Regions from separate parts of the Homo sapiens genome. Here regions 1, 2 and 4 are each reported to be linked to region 3. The links are microRNA targets in miRTarBase. Many come from high-throughput screens and were not tested one by one. Region 3 holds a microRNA gene; each other region holds the end of a gene's coding sequence.
The links. The annotated mature microRNA hsa-miR-365b-5p reads AGGGACUUUCAGGGGCAGCUGU and lies in region 3 at 1,659-1,680, shown strand. An mRNA with a match to its seed (bases 2 to 7 or 8) in the 3' UTR can be bound and repressed. Matches are read on the target gene's strand: a 7mer-m8 pairs with bases 2 to 8, a 7mer-A1 pairs with bases 2 to 7 and ends in A, and an 8mer does both.

Region 1: miRTarBase lists TTC38 as a target of hsa-miR-365b-5p. The part of its 3' UTR that is shown has no 7-base or 8-base seed match.
Region 2: the mRNA of ZC3H7B is a reported target of hsa-miR-365b-5p. Seed matches in the 3' UTR shown: 7mer-A1 at 1,021-1,027.
Region 4: the mRNA of TLR10 is a reported target of hsa-miR-365b-5p. Seed matches in the 3' UTR shown: 7mer-A1 at 795-801.

What each region holds. Positions count from the first base shown.
Region 1 is chr22:46,292,461-46,295,540 of GRCh38, forward strand. It overlaps TTC38 (tetratricopeptide repeat domain 38), which reads left to right. Exons shown (of 14, transcript NM_017931.4): 14 at 331-1,548. The coding sequence ends at 424. GTSE1-DT (GTSE1 divergent transcript) reads right to left here. Exons shown (of 1, transcript NR_024009.1): 1 at 2,683-3,080. Among named protein-coding and RNA genes, the nearest start is that of GTSE1-DT, 2.7 kb to the right of the region's middle.
Region 2 is chr22:41,356,998-41,360,061 of GRCh38, forward strand. ZC3H7B (zinc finger CCCH-type containing 7B) reads left to right here. Exons shown (of 23, transcript NM_017590.6): 23 at 180-3,064. The coding sequence ends at 432. Among named protein-coding and RNA genes, the nearest start is that of TEF, 23 kb to the right of the region's middle. RefSeq lists an enhancer at 2,999-3,064.
Region 3 is chr17:31,573,781-31,576,860 of GRCh38, forward strand. MIR365B (microRNA 365b) reads left to right here and starts at 1,631; the gene lies at 1,631-1,741. It overlaps MIR365BHG (MIR365B and MIR4725 host gene), which reads left to right. Exons shown (of 3, transcript NR_186556.1): 3 at 1,731-1,879. It overlaps MIR4725 (microRNA 4725), which reads left to right and starts at 1,489; the gene lies at 1,489-1,578. RefSeq lists an enhancer at 1-205.
Region 4 is chr4:38,770,476-38,773,555 of GRCh38, reverse strand. It overlaps TLR10 (toll like receptor 10), which reads left to right. Exons shown (of 4, transcript NM_030956.4): 4 at 1-1,318. The coding sequence ends at 401. Among named protein-coding and RNA genes, the nearest start is that of TLR10, 11 kb to the left of the region's middle.

The DNA of each region.
Region 1 (3,080 bases), not on the chromosome of region 3:
TACATTTAGCCTGGACACAGACATTCAGTCCACAGCAGGGTCTTTACCTCAAACCGTACCTGGGTCTTCTCTCTTCAAACCTGGGTTTTCCCCACTGCCACCTGTTGTGCCCCATCTCGGGTGTGGCTTCCTGCACTGGAGGTCTGTGCCCTCCCATCCTCACCTCTCCCCAAACTGAGGCCAGGCCTCCTGCCCCTGGGCCTTGGCCCTTGCTGTTCCCTCAGTGCCGCAGTCTAGCCTGCCTGTGTTCTGCCTTGGGACCAAGGGACCACCAGGCCCCACATCCCTCTAGAAGGTTCTGTAACAGGACCTCTGTGTCTGTTTCCACAGGAGCCTTCTGATGGAGCGTGATGCCTTGAAGCCCAACTCGCCCCTGACCGAGCGGCTCATCCGCAAGGCAGCTACCGTCCACCTCATGCAGTGAGCCAGCCTGGCCGCCTCCACCCTGCAGAACCTCAGTGGTGGCGTCACTGCGTCCAGTCAGCTGCTCCACCGGGTTAGGGTCAGGAGACGGCCAGAGCCTGTTTGTTAGGGCTGTTAGAGGGTGATCTTCAGTTTTACAGGAAGTGGGTCACGGGTTAATTTTAAATGTGATTCCGAATCTCCTTTCAGTCCTCGAGAAGGGCCAATGAGCATTTTTCAGCAGTCACAGCCAGTGTGAGTGCTGCTCTTTCCACCTGCCTTGCAAATTCTGTTTCCCAGGGGAATGTGTCTACTGCCTGGTGGTTCAAAGGTTGGAAGGCAGGGCAGAGGTGGGGGCTGATTCTGCTGGGACAGGTCTTCCAGAGGCAGCCTCCCCCCACTGCCTGTCCCCGTCCCCACCAGGCTGCCCTTGGGATGGACCTTTTCATTCTTTTCTTTATATTCTAGACAGTCTCTGTTGTCTCATTGTGTTGCTGTCCCATTTTTCAGGTGAGGGTACCGGGGTAGGGGAGTGGCCTGCCCAGGGTCACACTATGAGAGGCCCCCACCTGCTGCCTTTGGACGCAGCCCCCTGCTGCTGCATCCACCACCCTTCTTACAGATCAGCGCGCACATGGGGTCCTTCTGCTGTCTCTGGGGCGAGTCTTGGAGCCCCCTGGGGGGCTCTGTTGGTGCTGATTTGGACCCGTTTCTCTTTTTAAACTGCACATCATAACAGGGCTTCATGTCGAGCATGATTTTAATCATAAATGCACTTCTGAGGTGCAAGGATTGAGCTCAGAGCTGCTCTGTTGTGGCAAAACCCAAAGTGCTGTGATGTGTGGCTGTGACAAGCCTGGAGCGGGTCCTGTGAGCGCCGCCTCTGTCTCCTGCTTCCCCACTGAACGCCTGCTGAATGTGCCGCTGACTCAGCTGTGCTGCTTTCAGCCCTCCTGTGAGGGGCGGTCCCAGTGCACAGATGTTTTTCAAGTTCCTCAGTTTGTACTGAAATTAGGGATTCATCAGGGCAGGAAGCAGGCAGGCCTCTCAGAAGGGAGAGGAGGCCTCCAAATCTATTGAGTCCCCACAGTTTGCTCAAGCCCAGGCAAATTTCTGTGATTAAAATGAATTCATCAGTTCCTCCAAGTCTTTGAGCATCTGTGGTGCAGGCCTGGGGCTGGGTCCTGGGGAGATGGCTTCTCCTTGAACTTAAGGTAGGTGGGGCAGGCCAGGCGCAGTGGCTCACGCCTGTAATCCCACCACTTTGGGAGGCTGAGGTGGGTGGATCCCCTGATGTCAGGAGTTCGAGATCAGCCTGGCCAACATGGTGAAACCCTGTGTCTACTGAAAATACAAAAATTAGCTGAGCATGGTGGCACACGTCTGTAATCCCAGCTACTCGGGAGGCTGAGGCAGGAGAATCACTTGAACCTGGGAGGCAGTGATTGCAGTGAGCCAAGATCGTGCCATTGCACTGCAGTCTGGGCAACAGAGCGAGACTCCCATCTCAAGGGAAAAAAAAAAAAAAGTAGGTGGGGCATCTAGTCAAGAAAATGGGAGGTCGGGCGCAGTGGCTCACGTCTGTAATCCCAGCACTTTGGGAGGCTGAGGCAGGTAGATCACGAGGTCAGGAGATCAAGACCATCCTGGCTAACACGGTGAAACCCCATCTCTATTAAAAATACAAAAAATTAGCCGGGCATGGTGGTGGGCGCCTGTAGTCCCAGCTACTCGGGAGGCTGAGGCAGGAGAATGGCGTGAACCCGGGAGGCAGAGCTTGCAGTGAGCGGAGATCGCGCCACTGCACTCCAGCCTGGGCGACAAAGCAAGACTCCGTCTCAAAAAAAAAAAAAAAGAAAGAAAGAAAAGGGGTAATTATAGTAGTATTTCCAGAGAGGCGCCTTCTCTACCCAAGAACTAGGGACACATCCTAAGGGGAGCCTCCTTCCCCTCTCCTGGTTCCAAGCAAGAAGACATGACTTGGCTGTGCAATTGGGAACCCTGGTCCCTCCTCCAGGAAGCCTTCTACCCGCCAACCCCCACTGCAGGCTGGTGAGGGTGCTGCCTCTGTGCCCCTCAGCCCTTGGCACTTGCCCTTGCTCTTGCACCCCTGCCATGACCTCTCCAGGTCAGGGACAGCATCTGTCCCCAGCATCACCTGGCACATGGCCTGCACTGAGTAGCTGTCAGTGAAAGTTGGTGAATGAAGGCATAAATAAATGAAGTCAAACTCTGTATTAGGCCTTCTTGCATTGCTATGAAGAAATACCTGACGCTAGGTAATTTATAAAGAGGTTTAATTGGCTCACAGTTCTGCAGGCTTTTCAGGAAGTATGGTGCTGGCATCTGCTTCTGGTGCAACCTCAGGAAGCTTAAGATCATGACATAAGGTGATGGGGAGCCAGTATATCACATAGTGAGAGCAGGAGTAAGAGAGAAGGGGAGGTCTTAGACTCTTAAATAACCAGATCTTGTGTGAACTAAGCAAGAACTCATCACCAAGGGGATGGTGCTGAACCATTCATAAGGGATCTGCCCTCACGACCCAATTACTTCCCACCAGGCCCCACTTCCAACATTGGGATCACATTTCAACATGAGATTTTGAGGGGACACACATCCAAACTACAGCAAATCCTATTGGGGGCAGAAATGAATCTGCCATACATAGGCCACAC
Region 2 (3,064 bases), not on the chromosome of region 3:
AATTTGCAGCTGTGGGGCAGATCCCAGAGAGGGTCAGGACACCCAGGTTTTCCCTGAGCTGGGACCCAGCTGCCCAGGGAGAGGCTTGTCTTCGGGGAGGTCAAGCGGCCGGCCCCAGATGGACAGCCTGGGGTGGGAAGGGCACAGAGCTCGGGCAGTGAGCCTCCTGCCACCCACAGGCTCCAGAAGGGCAAAGCCTGCCCAGATGGGGACAAGTGCCGCTGCGCCCATGGACAGGAGGAGCTCAACGAGTGGCTGGACCGGCGCGAGGTGCTGAAGCAGAAGTTGGCCAAGGCTCGCAAGGACATGCTGCTGTGCCCACGGGACGACGACTTTGGCAAATACAACTTCCTGCTGCAAGAGGACGGGGACCTTGCCGGTGCCACCCCAGAAGCCCCTGCTGCTGCTGCCACCGCCACCACTGGGGAGTAGGGCCAGGTGTTGGCCGTGGGTGAAGTCCTGGGGTCAGGGGGTGGGGTGGGGCCAGAAGGCCTGATAGAAGGGTCAGGGCAGGCCAGGGGGGTGGGGGGCCGCCCTCATCAGGCAGCCCCCAGCCCCCTGAGGCCCTGTCCATCTTCTCCCCACCACCGCCCCGGTGTGCGTACCCAGGCGCACGTGCTGCAGCCCCCGGAGGCCCCGCTGAAACCTGGGCTGCCCTTCCCCCACCCCCACGGCTCTCCTGGTTGAGGAGGGAGGGGCCTGGCTGACCCCTCCAGCTTCAGCCTCCAGCTTTAACTTCTGTCTGCTCCTAATGGGGGCCCAAAGCTCAGGGCTGGGGAGCCTGGGGTCCCCACTTGAATCTCCAGCAGGAGGGTCCTTCTCTCCCTGGCCCGTCCTCCTCCCACCCCCTCCCCCTGGGGGCAAATCAGGACACAACAGAGGGCAGAGGCCCCATTAGCTTTAAAATGTAGCCCCAGGTTGGAGCTGGGAACACTGTACTGGCCACTTACCCTCTGGGGCCTCAGCTTTCCCTCCGGAAGGCTGGGAGGAGGTGGGCTAGATGATCTTTGGAGCTTAAGGAGTCCCAGCCCTTTCTCTGATGCCACCACCTGAACCCTGCTCCCTCGTGGGCCAGTGAAAATAGACTGTAGGTCCTCAGAGCCTTCAGAGATGATCCAGCCCAAACCCCATTTTGCAGAGAGGAAAACTGAGGCCTAGAAGGGAGGAGTGGTCCACCCACGGTCCCAGCACAAGGCAGAGCTGGGATGAAAACAGGGCTGAAAAGACTCAGGGCCAATTATTGGCTGAGCCCACGGTCCCCTCAGCAGGGATGCGATGGTCTCTGAATCAGTGTGCAGCTGGGGTCCCAGGCAGCGCTGCCTGGGGGCTGGGGAGGGGAGGCCCAGAGGAGGGCTGGCCATGTGAGCACCCCATGAAGGGACCGCCCCCTCCCAAGGATGGTCCCTTTGGGTGCAGCAGCAGAGGTCACCTCCTGACATGCGCTCTGGGAAAGGTGGCAGAGGGCAGGACACCATGAGCTCAGGATCTGTGTGAGGTGTGGGAGGTGGGAAGGGTGAGGGTCTGGGGGAATGCGGAGAAAAGGGAGGCTTGACCCCGGGCACCATGGGCCACTCCAGGATGGGACACGGCCCCTCTTTCTTGGGGACCCAGTATGTCCTCTCCTCTAGACCCAGACATACAGTTATAACCGTCTGTCCTAGCCCCTCCCTAATCCCTGGCCCTCCCAGCTGTCTGGGACTTCAGTGGACCCCCAGCCCCTGCCCCCACTCACCAAGGCCTCGCTCGTCCCTCTCGTCTGACATGTCTGTGTGCACCCCCCTCCTCTCCACCCTACCTTCCATCAACCAGGGCAGATCCACCGTGCCCTGGTTCCCCAGACATTCCAGAATGCCCCACATCATTGGCACAGGAGTGGGGCAGCCCCGGAAGGAACCAGGGATTAGGCTGTAGGGGGGTGAGAAGGAGAGAAGGGACCACCCCATTCTTCTCAAGCAAGGATTGCCAGCGCGCGCTGACACAGTGATGGGCTGCCCAGGGCTGGAGGGGACGCTGTTCCTCCCGCCGCCACTGCCCAACCTTTCCTGATAATCGTGGCATGCGCCCTTTCCTCTTCCCTGCCCCACCCCCTGGCCGCAGCAGGCCAGCACTGCAGAGTTTGGGTGCTGGTGGTGTGGCTGTAGGGGAGGGGAGACCACACCCAAGGTGGGGGCTGTGGCCATGTGTGGCCGTGATGTCGATGATACTCGTTTTCCCTGATCCGTGGTGTTGCAGTCCGTTGTCACCAGCCTTGTTTCTAGTGTGTATATATGTCGCCCCCGTGATGCATATATACACAGGTATTAAATATATCGCTCTATATAATATTATATATGTGTGTGGTATCCAAGGAATCACTTTTATGAGGGCTAAAGATAAAGAATTTGGCCAGAAAATGCAGCCATCCTTGTGTGATTAGGAGGGTTTCAGGGGCCACTGGACTATTTGCAAGGTGACAGGGACTGGAGCCATGGCTCAGAGGTGATTCGGGCAGCCAGGGACAGGAGCCACCCTCCCCAGGCCCAACTCTGCTAGCTTCCCAGACCACCCCCATCGAGTGCGGAGAGAGTGGGAGTGCTCAGGGAAAGAAGGTGATTTGTATTTGTCTCCCCGCTGAAAAGAACAGGATTCAAGTCCAGAGTTTTCATCTTCAGCCTGTGATCTGTCCAGGGACCCTTGGGATCTGGGGCTTCCTGGCCTGGCCAGAGCTGGAGCCCCCACAGGGTAAGGAAGAGAGAGTGGGAGGCAGAGTGTGATGGGGAGGAGGGACAGGAAGACCCTTTTAATGATGAGGGTAACTATTTCAGTTGTGAGCCTTCTAGGGCCCCAGGCTGGGAGGCTCAGAGGACTGAATCTGGGACCTGTGTTCCCCCCGGCAGGCAGGGACAAGATGGCATGGCAAGCATGGGGGCGGGGTGGGTGGGGAGGGATGCTGCATTTCTCAGCTGGGCAGTAATCAATTTAATGGTCCTTTAAAATGTCTGTGTATTAAAAATTTAAGAATACCACACTTTAATATTAAATATTCATAAGGTCTAGTATCTTGATAATAATGTAGATGTTTTAA
Region 3 (3,080 bases):
TCCTATTACAGATAAGAGAGCTGAGGCTGGGAAGCCGAGTAATTTACACAGGGTCAGGTCATACAGCAAGTTAGCAGGTAGTGGTGCCAGCAGCTGGCTGTCTTTTGTGGGGATGTGTTTTCACCACAGCGGTGGCAACCTGTGTCCTGACAGGCCAGGTTCCTGCATGGACAGTGGGGCCCCCAAAGAGCAGGTGCAGTGCCAGGCTGGACAGATTCCAGCTGTGCCGGGGCCTTGGGCAAAGTGGCCTGGCCTCAGGAGACACGTTTCCTGTTGCTGGGTGACATTCCACAGGTGGGAGGCACATGCAGGACCTCATTCCCTAGGGGCCTTCCTGGTCTGGGCCCTGATGCCCTGACGCTGGGGTTGACCCTCTACTGCCCTGGAGGCTCACCTGGGCCTCGGGACAGAAGGGATTGTCCCATTAAGGAGAATCCTCTACGAGTCTCTGATTCTGGAAGCTCTTGTTTTTTATCCTCCCATACAAAAAACAAATTGGCCACCAGTCTCTTCCCTTCTTTTTGGCCACTGTCTCACCATCTCCTTCACCCAACCTTGGTTTCTTTCAGCCTGTGCTTCCCAGCAGAGCCTGTGGGCTTGTTGATTTGAACCCAGAAACCACCTAGGACATTCCAGAGGTCTTCACACTTGTCTTTGTTGCCCATTGTAGGCCGTTTTCATAGAAGGGTATTGGGAGGACCTGCCTTCCCACTCAGGCCAATGTGAAGCTGTTGCTCTTTTGCTAAGGGCAGGGTGGGATATGGCCGAGAATTGGTGGGCGGGCCTGAGATCCATTCAGCAGCACCCCAGGGCGTGCTGTTTCTCACAGGTTGCAGCCTCTTCCAGCCCCTTTGCTTTCTGTGACAGAGCTGAAAGTCTCATTTCCTCTTTGGCTTTCCCTTTGAAATGGGAGAGAGGGTGGTGGGAGCTTAGCTCCTTCCAGGCCCATTTTACAGGCAGAGTAACCAAGGCCGCGACTGCTGGAGAGAAGCGGAACCGGAGTTCCCGTGCCCATTCCTGTTGGAATCTCCTGTCTGTGTGCCGTTCTTTAAGATGGGCTGGAGAGAGTCGGGGCAGCTCTTCTCCCGGGTTTTCAGGCCTGGGTTGCTCTTCTGGGCACTTCCTGGTGTTTTCTTCTCTTTGCCTGAATCAGGCCTGGCCTCAGGCCTGGTTACAAGAAGGTTGGAGGCTGGCTGTCTTGTGTTCATGTGTCACGCCAGGCCTGAGACCATCATTGTCTCTCTGAGATGGTCCACGCCCCTCCTGTGAACACAGGGGCTACAGACTATAGTATAGTTCTTGCCACGTTCCCGAGTTTTGGGGGCTGCTCTCCACATTGGGATTCCACCAGGATGCTGGTCTGCAGTTTCCTGCAGGCAGAAGGCGCTGGGTTCTGAGTTGGCTTTAGGTGGAACCCAGGTCATTCCTGGGTATGCCTTGGGAGGGCGGCGAGGCTGGCCGCAGCTGGGCCCGGCATCGGAGAAAATTGTGTCTCTCTGGAGACCCTGCAGCCTTCCCACCCACCAGGGAGCTTTCCATGGGCTGTGGGGAAGGCGTCAGTGTCGGGTGAGGGAACACCAGCTTCACCTCGGCTCATCTGGGCGTGGCAGACGACTGCTTCCTCACCTGGAGAGTGTTCAAGGACAGCAAGAAAAATGAGGGACTTTCAGGGGCAGCTGTGTTTTCTGACTCAGTCATAATGCCCCTAAAAATCCTTATTGTTCTTGCAGTGTGCATCGGGCAGCGGCCAGCAACCTGCCTCTCACCCACCTGGCCCTTCTGGGAGGACCGGGACTTCCTGGGGTCAGATTGGAATGTACGTCCAAAATAAGAGTGAATGGGGATTTGCTGATTATTAAAACAATTTTGTTTGCGTGCATTTTTAGCATCTTCTCTTCTGGTGGAGGATTGGAGTGGCTGAGGGTCGGGAGGGCTGGACATCAAGATATTCCTGTGCAGGTTGGAGCCCAGGAGGGTGCAGGAACTCCCTGGTTTGTGTGCAGTGAAGGCCTGGAAGAGCCTAGCTGCACGTGCAGTGCCCAAGGAAGGTCATCTTCCGGGTCAGTGATGTTAGAGGCAACAGAGTTGGGCTGGACAAGATGCCCCCCAACCTTTCCTGAGAAGTTGAGGCAGGAGTAGAGGAGGCATCTATCTGCGCAGGAACTTGCATTGTATTTTAAAATAGAAGGCAGCCTGGCCAACATGGCAGAACCCCATCTCTGCTAAAAATACAAAAGTTAGCCGGGTGTGGTGGTGTGTGCCTGTAGTCCCAGCTACTCGGGAGGCTGAGGCATGAGAATTGCTTGAGCCCAGGAGTTGCAGGTTGCAGTGAGCCAAGATTGCACCACTGCACTCCAGCCTGGGCAACACAGTGAGACCTTGTCTCAAAAAATAAATAAAATAAAATAGAAGGAGCCTCAGAATCCACTGTCTGTCTGAGACCCAGTGAACTAGCCATTTTGAAAATAGAACAGTGAATTGAGGGTCTTTCCCCCTCTACTGTGACCCTGGAGCTTGCTTTTCCTTGACTGAAAGTCCTCCATCCTTATTTCACTTCATGGATCTCCTCCATTCTCAGCAGGTCTCCCTACCCCTGCCCTATCCAGCCCCACCCTGCAGATACAGTCATGCACTGCCTAACGATGTTTTGGTCAACGAGGGACCGCATGTAGGACAGTGGTCTCATAAGATTATAACACTGTTTTTACTGTGCCTTTTCTGGTTAGGTACACAAACGCTTGCCATTGTGTTCTAATTGTCTACAGCATTCAGGATAGGAACGTGCTGTACAGATGTGTAGCCTAGGAGCAATGGGCTCCCCCACCTAGCCTAGGTGTGCAGCAGGCTATTCACCATCTAGGTTTATGTAAGCACACTCTGTGAGGTTGGCACAATAACAAAATCACCTAACAATGCCTTTCTCAGGATGGATCCCCGTTGTTAAGTGACACATGACTCTATTTTGACCAGCCAAGGCTTTTGGAGGTCCTGGGGGATTGTCGAGAAGCAGAAATACCTTTTTTTAAATTATTATTATTATTTTTATTTGTTTTGAGATGGAGTCTTGCACTGTCGTCTGG
Region 4 (3,080 bases), not on the chromosome of region 3:
GTGAAAATATTGTAAGCTTCATTGAGAAAAGCTATAAGTCCATCTTTGTTTTGTCTCCCAACTTTGTCCAGAATGAGTGGTGCCATTATGAATTCTACTTTGCCCACCACAATCTCTTCCATGAAAATTCTGATCATATAATTCTTATCTTACTGGAACCCATTCCATTCTATTGCATTCCCACCAGGTATCATAAACTGAAAGCTCTCCTGGAAAAAAAAGCATACTTGGAATGGCCCAAGGATAGGCGTAAATGTGGGCTTTTCTGGGCAAACCTTCGAGCTGCTATTAATGTTAATGTATTAGCCACCAGAGAAATGTATGAACTGCAGACATTCACAGAGTTAAATGAAGAGTCTCGAGGTTCTACAATCTCTCTGATGAGAACAGATTGTCTATAAAATCCCACAGTCCTTGGGAAGTTGGGGACCACATACACTGTTGGGATGTACATTGATACAACCTTTATGATGGCAATTTGACAATATTTATTAAAATAAAAAATGGTTATTCCCTTCATATCAGTTTCTAGAAGGATTTCTAAGAATGTATCCTATAGAAACACCTTCACAAGTTTATAAGGGCTTATGGAAAAAGGTGTTCATCCCAGGATTGTTTATAATCATGAAAAATGTGGCCAGGTGCAGTGGCTCACTCTTGTAATCCCAGCACTATGGGAGGCCAAGGTGGGTGACCCACGAGGTCAAGAGATGGAGACCATCCTGGCCAACATGGTGAAACCCTGTCTCTACTAAAAATACAAAAATTAGCTGGGCGTGATGGTGCACGCCTGTAGTCCCAGCTACTTGGGAGGCTGAGGCAGGAGAATCGCTTGAACCCGGGAGGTGGCAGTTGCAGTGAGCTGAGATCGAGCCACTGCACTCCAGCCTGGTGACAGAGCGAGACTCCATCTCAAAAAAAAGAAAAAAAAAAAAGAAAAAAATGGAAAACATCCTCATGGCCACAAAATAAGGTCTAATTCAATAAATTATAGTACATTAATGTAATATAATATTACATGCCACTAAAAAGAATAAGGTAGCTGTATATTTCCTGGTATGGAAAAAACATATTAATATGTTATAAACTATTAGGTTGGTGCAAAACTAATTGTGGTTTTTGCCATTGAAATGGCATTGAAATAAAAGTGTAAAGAAATCTATACCAGATGTAGTAACAGTGGTTTGGGTCTGGGAGGTTGGATTACAGGGAGCATTTGATTTCTATGTTGTGTATTTCTATAATGTTTGAATTGTTTAGAATGAATCTGTATTTCTTTTATAAGTAGAAAAAAAATAAAGATAGTTTTTACAGCCTACACATCCTACTCATTTGGCTTGATTCTTCTTTCTGGTCTCACAGGTCACAGGAAGAAAAGCACTCCTGAAATATAATTTTTGCAAAATTATATTTCAAAAATGACAATTTTGCAAAATTATATTTCAAAAACAAACATCATGTCACTTCTCTGGTTAGAAAAAAATTTTGTGGCTTAAACACATGATTCAGGGAGAGAATGTCATGCTCCTTTAAGATCTGACAGCAATCTCCTTTTATATCCTTGCATCTTCTTTATTTTTAATTTTTAGAGACTAGCTCTTGCTCTGTCACCCAGGCTGGAATGCAGTGGTGCGATCATAGCTCACTGCAGTATTGAGCTCCTGGCCTCAAATGATCCTCCTGTCTTGGACTCCCGAAGTGCTGGGATTACAGGTGTGAGCCACCACACCCAGCCCCTCCTTGCATCCTATCATTGGGCCCTATGGAGCTACTGGCCCTTCCCCAGAACTTTCAGTGTTCTTTCATGGCTCCAGAGCCCAGATTTCACATCATGCCTGCTGTAATGCCTTCCCTACTTGGGTTTGTTCAGGAAATCTTACAGTTCTCTCAGGACACAATCCACATATCGACTCTTCTTTGAAATCATCCTCACTCTTTCCCGTAAGCATGATGCTTCTTGATTCTCTTCCACACTTTGGACATATTTCTATCACCAACCTAATTATGTACATTTTTAAAGTTTCAATTTCCCACTAGACTATGAACTCCTCAAAGGCTAAGACAGACTTACATCTGCCCTTGTGTCTGCAGCAGTCCCTGGTTCAGAACTGGTGCTCAAAGAATGTTTATGGAATGGATGTTGGGTTGGCTAGAGGAGCTTAGTGGGAACTCAACTGGCTTAAGGATAGATGGTGGAATTTAAAGGCATATTCTGAGAAGCTCAGGAAGAGCAGGAATAGGTAAAACTCAGGTAAGAAGACAGAGAATCCAGAATTGTAGGATTCCTAAGTAGAGCTCACGTCATGTGAAATTGCCAAAATTTGGTTGCTCTCGACCTAGAAAAGCATCTACTTTTAAAAATCTCATTCCATCTGTATTAGGGTTCTCTAGAGGGACAGAACTAATAGGATATATATATATATATATATATCACACAATACTATATCTATATCTATATCTATATCTATATATATATATTGCAAGGTCTATTGTGGGACCTTGTAATTGTGTGGGTCAACACTCCTTAATAAACTCCTATATATATAGGAGGTACATATATATATAAAATAGGATATTACATATAGGATATATATATAAAATAGGATATATATATAAAATAGGATATATATATAATAGGATATATATAGGAGCTATATAGGATATATATACAAATATATATAAAGTATATATAAATATATATACTTTATATATATAATAGGATATTATATATATATAGGATATATATAATAGGATATTATATATATATAGGATATATATAATAGGATATTATATATATAGGATATATATAATAGGAGATATATATATAATAGGAGATATATATATATAATAGGAGATATATATATATATGAGCTTATTAAGGAGTATTGACACACACAATTACAAGGTCCCACGGTAGACCATCTGCAAGCTGAGGAGCAAGGAAGCCAGTCCAAGTCCCAAAGCTGAAGAACTTGGAGTGCAATGTTTGAGGGCAGGAAGCATCCAGCATGGGTGAAAGATGTAGGCTGGGAGGCTAGCCCAGTCAAGTTTCGTCATGTTCTTCTGCCTCCTTTTATTCT